Homo sapiens: one gene and its partner. The protein of the gene in region 1 interacts with the protein of each later gene in a pairwise test. Each region holds a gene or a part of one and is shown on either strand. Other genes may lie near its edges.

Region 1 (3,750 bases):
TCCACATCCCCGATGACCTCAGACCCTGCCGTCGACAGCTCATGGTACAGGGAGTCGGTGTTGATGCCGAAAGCTTTGTTCACGATGCCCTGGGTTGGGCTGTTGGGATCCACAGGTCGGGAGAGAGAGCAGAGTCAGTGGGCAGCCCGGAGTGGCTGCGTCTGCAGACTCTTCCAACACCTCCCACCGTGGCCATTCAATGCCCACACTGCCCTGCAGGCCGGTCGTGGATGGAGGCGGTAGGCCACAGCCTTGATGGTTCTCCCAGTGGTGGCAGAGGAAGACTTCACCAAAGACACCGACTTGGATAAATACTGAGCCCCCAGGACCCCAGGGCCTGGGCTGAGCCAGTACCTGCTTCCTGTGCGGTCCAGGCGGGTCTCTGGACACATGTCCAGCTCTGGCGTGGAGTCAATAATGTCTTGAACATCAGACCACTCGTCACTGCTGCCCATGCCTAGGGGAGAGCACAGGGGCACCTGGGGTCAGGAGAGGGTCTGGCAGCCTCTGCCCTGCTCACGGCTGCCCTCGGAACCTGAGTCTGGTGGGCTGGAGCTGGACCACCTGCTAGGTGGGGATGATCAGAAAACAGCTCTTCCCAGGCTGACTGGGCAGAGGTCGAACCCCAGCACAGTAGACGTCTGAGGCGGGGCCTGGAGCGGGGTGGGTTGCAGCAGCCTCTCTGCATGGGAGTGTCAGCAGTAAGCCCAGTCCCCAGAGATCCCACGTCCAAGCAAGCCAGTGGCTGGACCTCCTCTCGGCCCTCATTCCCCTCTTCTCTTTCCCTCACTGGCCTGTGTGCCGTGGGGCAACGCAGGTTACTGGTTAGTGGGGCTGTGTGCCATGGGGTGACGTAGGCTACTGGTTAGTGGGACTGTGTGCCGTGGGGCGATGCAGGTTACTGGTTAGTGGGGCTGTGTGCCGTGGGGCGATGCAGGTTACTGGTTAGTGGGGCTGTGTGCCGTGGGGCGATGCAGGTTACTGGTTAGTGGGGCTGTGTGCCGTGGGGTGACGCAGGCTACTGCCTTAGTTGTGTCTCCCCAAATCCATATGTTAATAGATACCCCCTAGCATGACTGTATTTGGAGGCTGGGCCTTTCAAGAGGTGATTATGGTAAAATGAGGTCACGTGGTGGCTCTAATCCAATGGGGCTATGTCCTTGTAGGAGCTGGAGATGAGGACACAGACACACCCAGGGGATGCCTGTTGAGGACACAGGGAGAAGGTGGTGTCTACAAGCCAAGGAGTGGCCGCAGGAGGAACCTACCCTGCCAGCGCCTTGATCTTGGACCCCAGCCTCCGGGCTGTGAGGAACACGTCTCTGCTGCCTGCACTGCCCGCCTGGTGCATTAGTTTCACATCTACCCAAACCAAGCCCTGCCTCCTGCCCGAGGGAGCCCAGAGTCCCGGAGGTGGGCACCCACCTATACTGACGTTGCGCATCTCCTGGGTGACCTGTACTTCCATGTTGCGGCTGTCGCGCTTCTCCCGGGCACGCTTGCTGTTCTTGGAGCCCACGCCATAGTCCCCCAGGGGCTGCAGGCTCTCGTTGAGGGGTGTGACGGCGGCCGAGGGCACGGAGGATGTGGGCGTGTTGGACTTGGTGCCTGTGGTGCTGGGTGTGGCGGCCGCCGAGGACTGGCCTGACTCGGACATTTCATCCTGTGGACACTAAGGCCAAACACAGGGAGGAGGGAGAGCGAGTCACTGCAGGTCCCTGGCCTGCGGCTCCGCCGTGGCTGCCTGAGGCCCCGCGCACCAATGCTTTGCACTTTGCCTCGCCCGACACCCTGCGGGCCAGAGCTCCTCTGCCGCCCACCGGGCTAACCCTTCCGGGCCTCACCACTCCCGAGTGGCTCTGCTTATCCGGCCACTGACTCCGGCTCCTCGGAAGCAGGGCCACCCTCCTGAAATGGCTTGGAACGGGGCTTTCCACTGGTGCCCTCCCCAGACGATTGCTTGTAATGGGCCAGTGCCTCGCCAGGGACACAGCGGCAGCCCCCTGTAGCTTGTGGCTGTTCAGAAACAAGTCCAGCCCAGGTAGGGCAGAGGGCTCTGACTGGGGACCCAAGAAGGGCTGGCTGTGCCGCCACCGCTGCCCCGTCACCATCACTGTGCTGAAGAGCTCGAGGCTGGGCCCACCCGCGCCTGCCCCACGTTCCTCCCCGGGCTCAGGTCAGGGCCAGGGAGTGACCAGAAGGTGCTGACCCTGTGGCTTGACTGGACCAGAGCTCACCCCTGAACATGAGCAAGCGCAAAGAAACCACAATCCCTGCTCACAGAAAGGGACGCCACCAAGACATTCTGGAGGGTGGGGGCAGCCCGGATTACGAGAAACCGCAACCAGCCGTCTACCTCAGGAAGCTCGCTAGGGAGGAGCGCATTCTATGTGACTAATGCGGAATGCGAAACAAACATTCTTTCCAATGGTCTTTCCTAACAAAGATACTGAACCAGCTGGAGAAAAAGAGCCCCAAACGTTCTCGTCTTAGCTGACCTGATCACCCGCTATGGCAGAGCTTGCCCGTGGCCCCCGGCCCTCCTTGAGGTGTGGGAAAGTGCAAGGCCTCAGAGGCACCCAGGTGGCTCCTGTGCCTGTCCCAGGCAGCCGCTGGGTGGGTTCCCGTGGTCTCTCAGAGGGCGCACCGTGGGGGACTCTAATGCTAAGGATCTCACCCAGGGAGGAGCTGTCGAGGGGGTATCCAGCCCTCTCCACAGCTGACTTATACTGGCCTTTAAGTGACCAGGGCAGACGGGACTTCCAGAAGTCATGGCCAGTGCTGACCTCTGCCTCTGCCCAGCCTCTCTGGTCACCGCCAGACTCAGGGCACGGGGCCTCTCAGTACCGGACACGGCCACTCACTCAGAGGACACATTTCTGCTTCATCTACCAGGCTCCTAAGTTTCTCTAGAAGGAATCTCAAAATGACACACCTTCCTCTATAGTAGCTATTCTCAGTTGGGCTGACTGCCCCGAGGGGATGCTTGCAAAGTCCAGAGACATTTTTGTGGTCACAAATGAAGGGGGTGCTCCTGGCTTTCGTGGGTGGAAGCCAGGGATGCTGCTCCACACCCACCGCGTCCCAGCGGCCCAGGCCATGCATGTCCAGCCCCAAAAGATGAGCAGTGCCGAGGGAGAGCCCTCACACGGGCGCAGCCCGCCTCCCGGAGTGGCTTTGTAGAAATGTCTGAGACGGCCTGTGGCTCTGCAGCTATGCCCAGTTTGAAAGGAAAACCCTTGCTCTTCATGTCACTCCCCACGCTGGAGGAAGCGAGTACCGCTCATGCAAGAAGTCTGTGCTGACGTTCTCAAAGAACCTGTCTACCCAATGTGTCACAGGCACCTGGTGTCTCACCGACTCTGCCACCACCCGGCAGAGAGAAAACAGGGAACCCCATGTGGCCAGGCAGGGTGTAGCTGTGCACATCAGACAAACGCTTCTGGGCCACCTTCCTCCACGCTGGGTCCCCGGCCTGCTCCTGACCCTCATGGTGGCTGCGGGGAATTCTGCAGTCTGATTGCGCCTCCCCTAGCTCTCCGTCACCCTACAGGGCCACCACTTACCCATGGGACACTCCCCCTGGCCACAACTTACCTAAAGGCAAACCTCTCAACCTCCTAAACATCAACGTGTAGCAGTGACCTCCAAATGCACTGAAAGAACCCAAACTCTTAGCGGTCATTCCTCACCATGAGTAGCCACAACTGTTTGGTTAAAACACTGAAAATACAGTACATAAAAACAAAA
Region 2 (3,750 bases), on another chromosome or scaffold:
TCCGAAATCCTTTTCAGCGAGCAATAGTATTTAGTAGTGATAAAACACTAATTTGTCTACCAAGTGACATATTTATAGGAGCTGTTTACTTGGACATATTTTTATTATTTCTACTCATTTGCTAAGTACTTTCCAACGCATATTTATGAAGCACAGGCCTTTCCCCAAACAGTTGTGAAAAAATAAATCATATTATTTCTTTTATTAGTAGCAGCACGGCTTGGAAGTCCTAGTGCCCTGATTTTAGTTATTTCTGGCAAGAGCTGGAAGAATTAATAGTGACCGACCACCTACTATGTGCCAGACTCTCTGTGAAAGGCACTTTACATAAATTATCTGTTTAATTCCCCTGAGGCATATATTTTACCAACAAAGAATGTAATTCCCCTGCAACATACACTTTACCAGTAGGACAGAGACATTACCTTGTCCAAGTAACTCGGCCAGAAAGGGACTAGCAGGGTTTTGAACTTAGATCTTTTTCCTGATTCCAAAATCCCAAATCACCATTCCATTTCACCAGCACCCCTACCAACCTCTCTGGATCTAATAGCTTCTGTAAAATATAAAGTGTTTTTTGTTTTGTTTTGTTTTTTTAATGAGAGAGGATGTGTAGGTTACTGAGAATGGAACAGTTAGAGATAAACATACACAGGGTGCTAACCCTAATTTTTCTATGGGAGGTTACTCTTCAAGGGATTTACTCCCTAAGAAATCAATGGAAGGATGTTTCCCAAAGAGAAGGGCCAGTACTAGTGCTGGATCCATTCCTGGAGACAGAACTGGCTACACTGTTTGCAAGAAACAGTGCAAAATATGGGATGCTTGTTTAAAAATTAAGAACTTCAAGATGGCAACAGCAGAGCATTAAACTAAGTGCAGAGCCCTGCTAAGCATGGGGCTGTGTGACTGCACTGGTCATACCACCATGTAGCTGGGCCTGCCTGGACAGAAGAAAGCTGTCATCAGTATCCCCCATGCATCATAAGCTTATTCATAATATGAGATTGAGTGCCTATATCATGCCTGGAAAACTATTCAGTGTTTTACATAAGTTACATGATCCTAAAACAACTCTATGAAACAGATATTATTTTTCCCATTTCACGGTGGATGAAACTAAGGCTTAAAGAGACTGTTATTCATCCATTGTTATATGGCAAGTAAATGTCAAAGCTAGGACCAAGTTAGTTGAGATATAAAAAATCCTGTTCCTTGACTTTGTATCTTTGTCAGCACAGGCCCATTGTTTTCCTACAAAACTCAAACTTAAGCTGAGGCTATTATACCAAAAACTATAGAGAGGCCAAGGAAGAGCAGAGATTCAAGGGCTACTCAAAAAGTCAAATGTGCAGCAGCTGAAGTGCAGCCGTACAGCTCCAGGGCATGAGGACCTGGCAGAGAGAACTCCATCATTCATGGCAAATGTCATGGCCAATACCCAGACTCCTCCAAGACTGAAGGGTAACCCAGTGAGGTCTTTCATAAAGAGCAGCTACGTGGAACCTAAGGCATCTAACTCAGTAAAATATTGTAAATAGTCCACTAAAGTTAGGAACAAGACAAGGATGATTGTTATTGTTGCTTCTATTCTGTGTAGTACTAAAAGTCAGTTTAGCCAGTGCAATAGGACAAGAAAAAAATGATAGAAAGCATTCAGGATCACTTTGGATTAATAATATACCTAACTCTAATTTAAGGTCTATGCATCACAGAGCCTTCTCCAATGCCAAACCCCAGCACACAGAACTAGACAGTTTAAACCTTACCCAGTGCTTGCTTCAGCAGCACATACACTAAAATTGGAACAATACAAAGATGATTAGCATGGCCCCTGAAATAAATTAAAATATAAATAAATCCTGCCCAGACAACTGCATGGCAGAACACAGCAAAAACCTAGTAGGATATACATCTAAATCCCTTATCTCCCCCTGCTTCACATCTCAGGGATGCATAGGCCCTGTTTTGTTTTGTTTTTTTGAGATGGAGTCTTGTTCCGTCACCCAGACTGGAGTGCAGTAGTGTGATCTTGGCTCACTGCAACTTCCACCACCCGGGTTCAAGCGATTCTCCTGCCTCAGCCTTCTGAGTAGCTGGAACTACAGGCACCCGCCACCACGCCCGGCTAATTTTTGTATTTTTAGTAGAAATGGGGTTTCGCCATGTTGGCCAAGCTGGTCTCGAACTTCTGATTTCAAATGATCCACCCACCTCAGCCTCCCAGAGCGCTGAGATGACAGGCGTGAGCCACCACGCTCAGCCAGCCCTGCTGTTTTTTATTCAGCTTTATTTCCCCCTAAACCTCCAGTTCTCTTTAATACTAATGATATCTGCCTTCTCCAAGTTTTTGTCATTCTTTTGTAACTTCCCTGGGGGAAATCAGAAAGAGCTGAGAAGTAGATCTCTGATCCCGCTTTTTATGGTGAGCTAAGCTGAAAAGAGGTTGGGATGTGCAGCCCCTGCTGCTATCAGGGCAAAGTATGAAAAAGAATTTTGTGGAAACATTTACATATTTACAGCAGAAGGCAGCGTGCAGATGGGAAAAAATGGGTTTGGTATCAGGCAGACATGTGTCTGGATTCCCGTGCTGCCACTTATTAGCTTTATGTCCTTAACCTCACTGAGATCCCATTTACTGTCTATTAAATGGAATCATTCCCTCTGCCACAAGGCTGTCCTAAGGTCATAATGAGACATGCATCAAGGGCCTAAGGATACATAATAGAGCCTTGATTAACTCGTCTTTGGTACTACCGTAAGTACTAGTGAGAGGCTGCCCACCCAGCATCCAGTTCATCCACACACTCTCCTTTCTAGTAGAAAGGAGAACTCCCATTTTTCTTTCAGTGGCTCCAGCATGTGCTTCAGGAAAGCCTGTCCCCAGCCTCAGCTCCAGGGCTATTTCCTAGTTGGTTTGAGTCAATCACAGCAGTCCCTTTTTCTTGCCAGTTACTGTATTACACATGGGTGTATGAAGCAATTCTGCACCAATGAGATTTGAGGTGAGTCAGCTTTGGTTGGAAGTTAGTTCTGAGTTAGTCCTTTGTTAAATTAAATTTGGGGTCGGGTGTGGTGTCTCACGCCTGTAATCCAGGCACTTTGGGAGGCAGAGGCAGGTGAATCACCTGAGGTCAGGAGTTTGAGACCAGTCTGGCCAACATGGTGAAACCCCATCTCTACTAAAAATACAAAAAGAGCCGGGGATGGGGGCGCATGCTTGTAATCCCAGCTACTCGGGAGGCTGCGGCAGAATTGCTTGAACCCAGGAAGCAGAGGTTGCAGTGAGCCAAGATCATGCCACTGCACTCCAGCCTAGGTGACAGAGACTCCGTCTCAAACAAACAAACAAAAGCTAAATTTGGCCTGAGGGCTAGTCACAGTGGGTCATGCCTATAATCCCAGTTCTTTGGGAGGCTGAGGCAGGCAGATCATCTGAGGTCAGGAGTTCGAGACCAGCCATGGCCAACATGATGAAACCCCATCTCTACTAAAAATACAAAAAATTAGCCGGACATAGTGGCAGGCGCCTGTAGTCGTAGTCCCAGCTACTCAGGAGGCTGAGGCAGGAGAATCACTTGAACCCGGGAGGCAGAGGTGCAGTGAGCTGAGATCACGCCACTGCACTCCAGCCTGAGCAAGAGCAAGACTCCATCTCAAAAAGAAAAAAAAAATTGACCTGAGGAGGCTTTACTTGGGCCCTTAACAAACTGCAGCCTTAGTATGCAAACTAACTGAAAACCTAATTTA

Evidence for each region. The genes of interacting proteins can lie anywhere in the genome.
Region 2: the proteins of MAPK8IP3 (region 1) and RAD51D interact in binary tests that used the Homo sapiens proteins (3 or more experiments, as listed by UniProt).

The regions. Positions count from the first base shown.
Region 1 is NC_000016.10:1,744,951-1,748,700, reverse strand, and holds part of MAPK8IP3 (C-Jun-amino-terminal kinase-interacting protein 3), read right to left. Parts: exon of another isoform or gene 2,112-3,750; coding exon of another isoform or gene 1,845-2,111; intron 1,673-1,844; coding exon 1,426-1,672; intron 458-1,425; coding exon 355-457; intron 100-354; coding exon 1-99.
Region 2 is NC_000017.11:35,092,137-35,095,886, forward strand, and holds the end of RAD51D (DNA repair protein RAD51 homolog 4), read right to left. Parts: 3' UTR 85-3,750; downstream 1-84. UniProt on the Homo sapiens protein: Involved in the homologous recombination repair (HRR) pathway of double-stranded DNA breaks arising during DNA replication or induced by DNA-damaging agents. Bind to single-stranded DNA (ssDNA) and has DNA-dependent ATPase activity.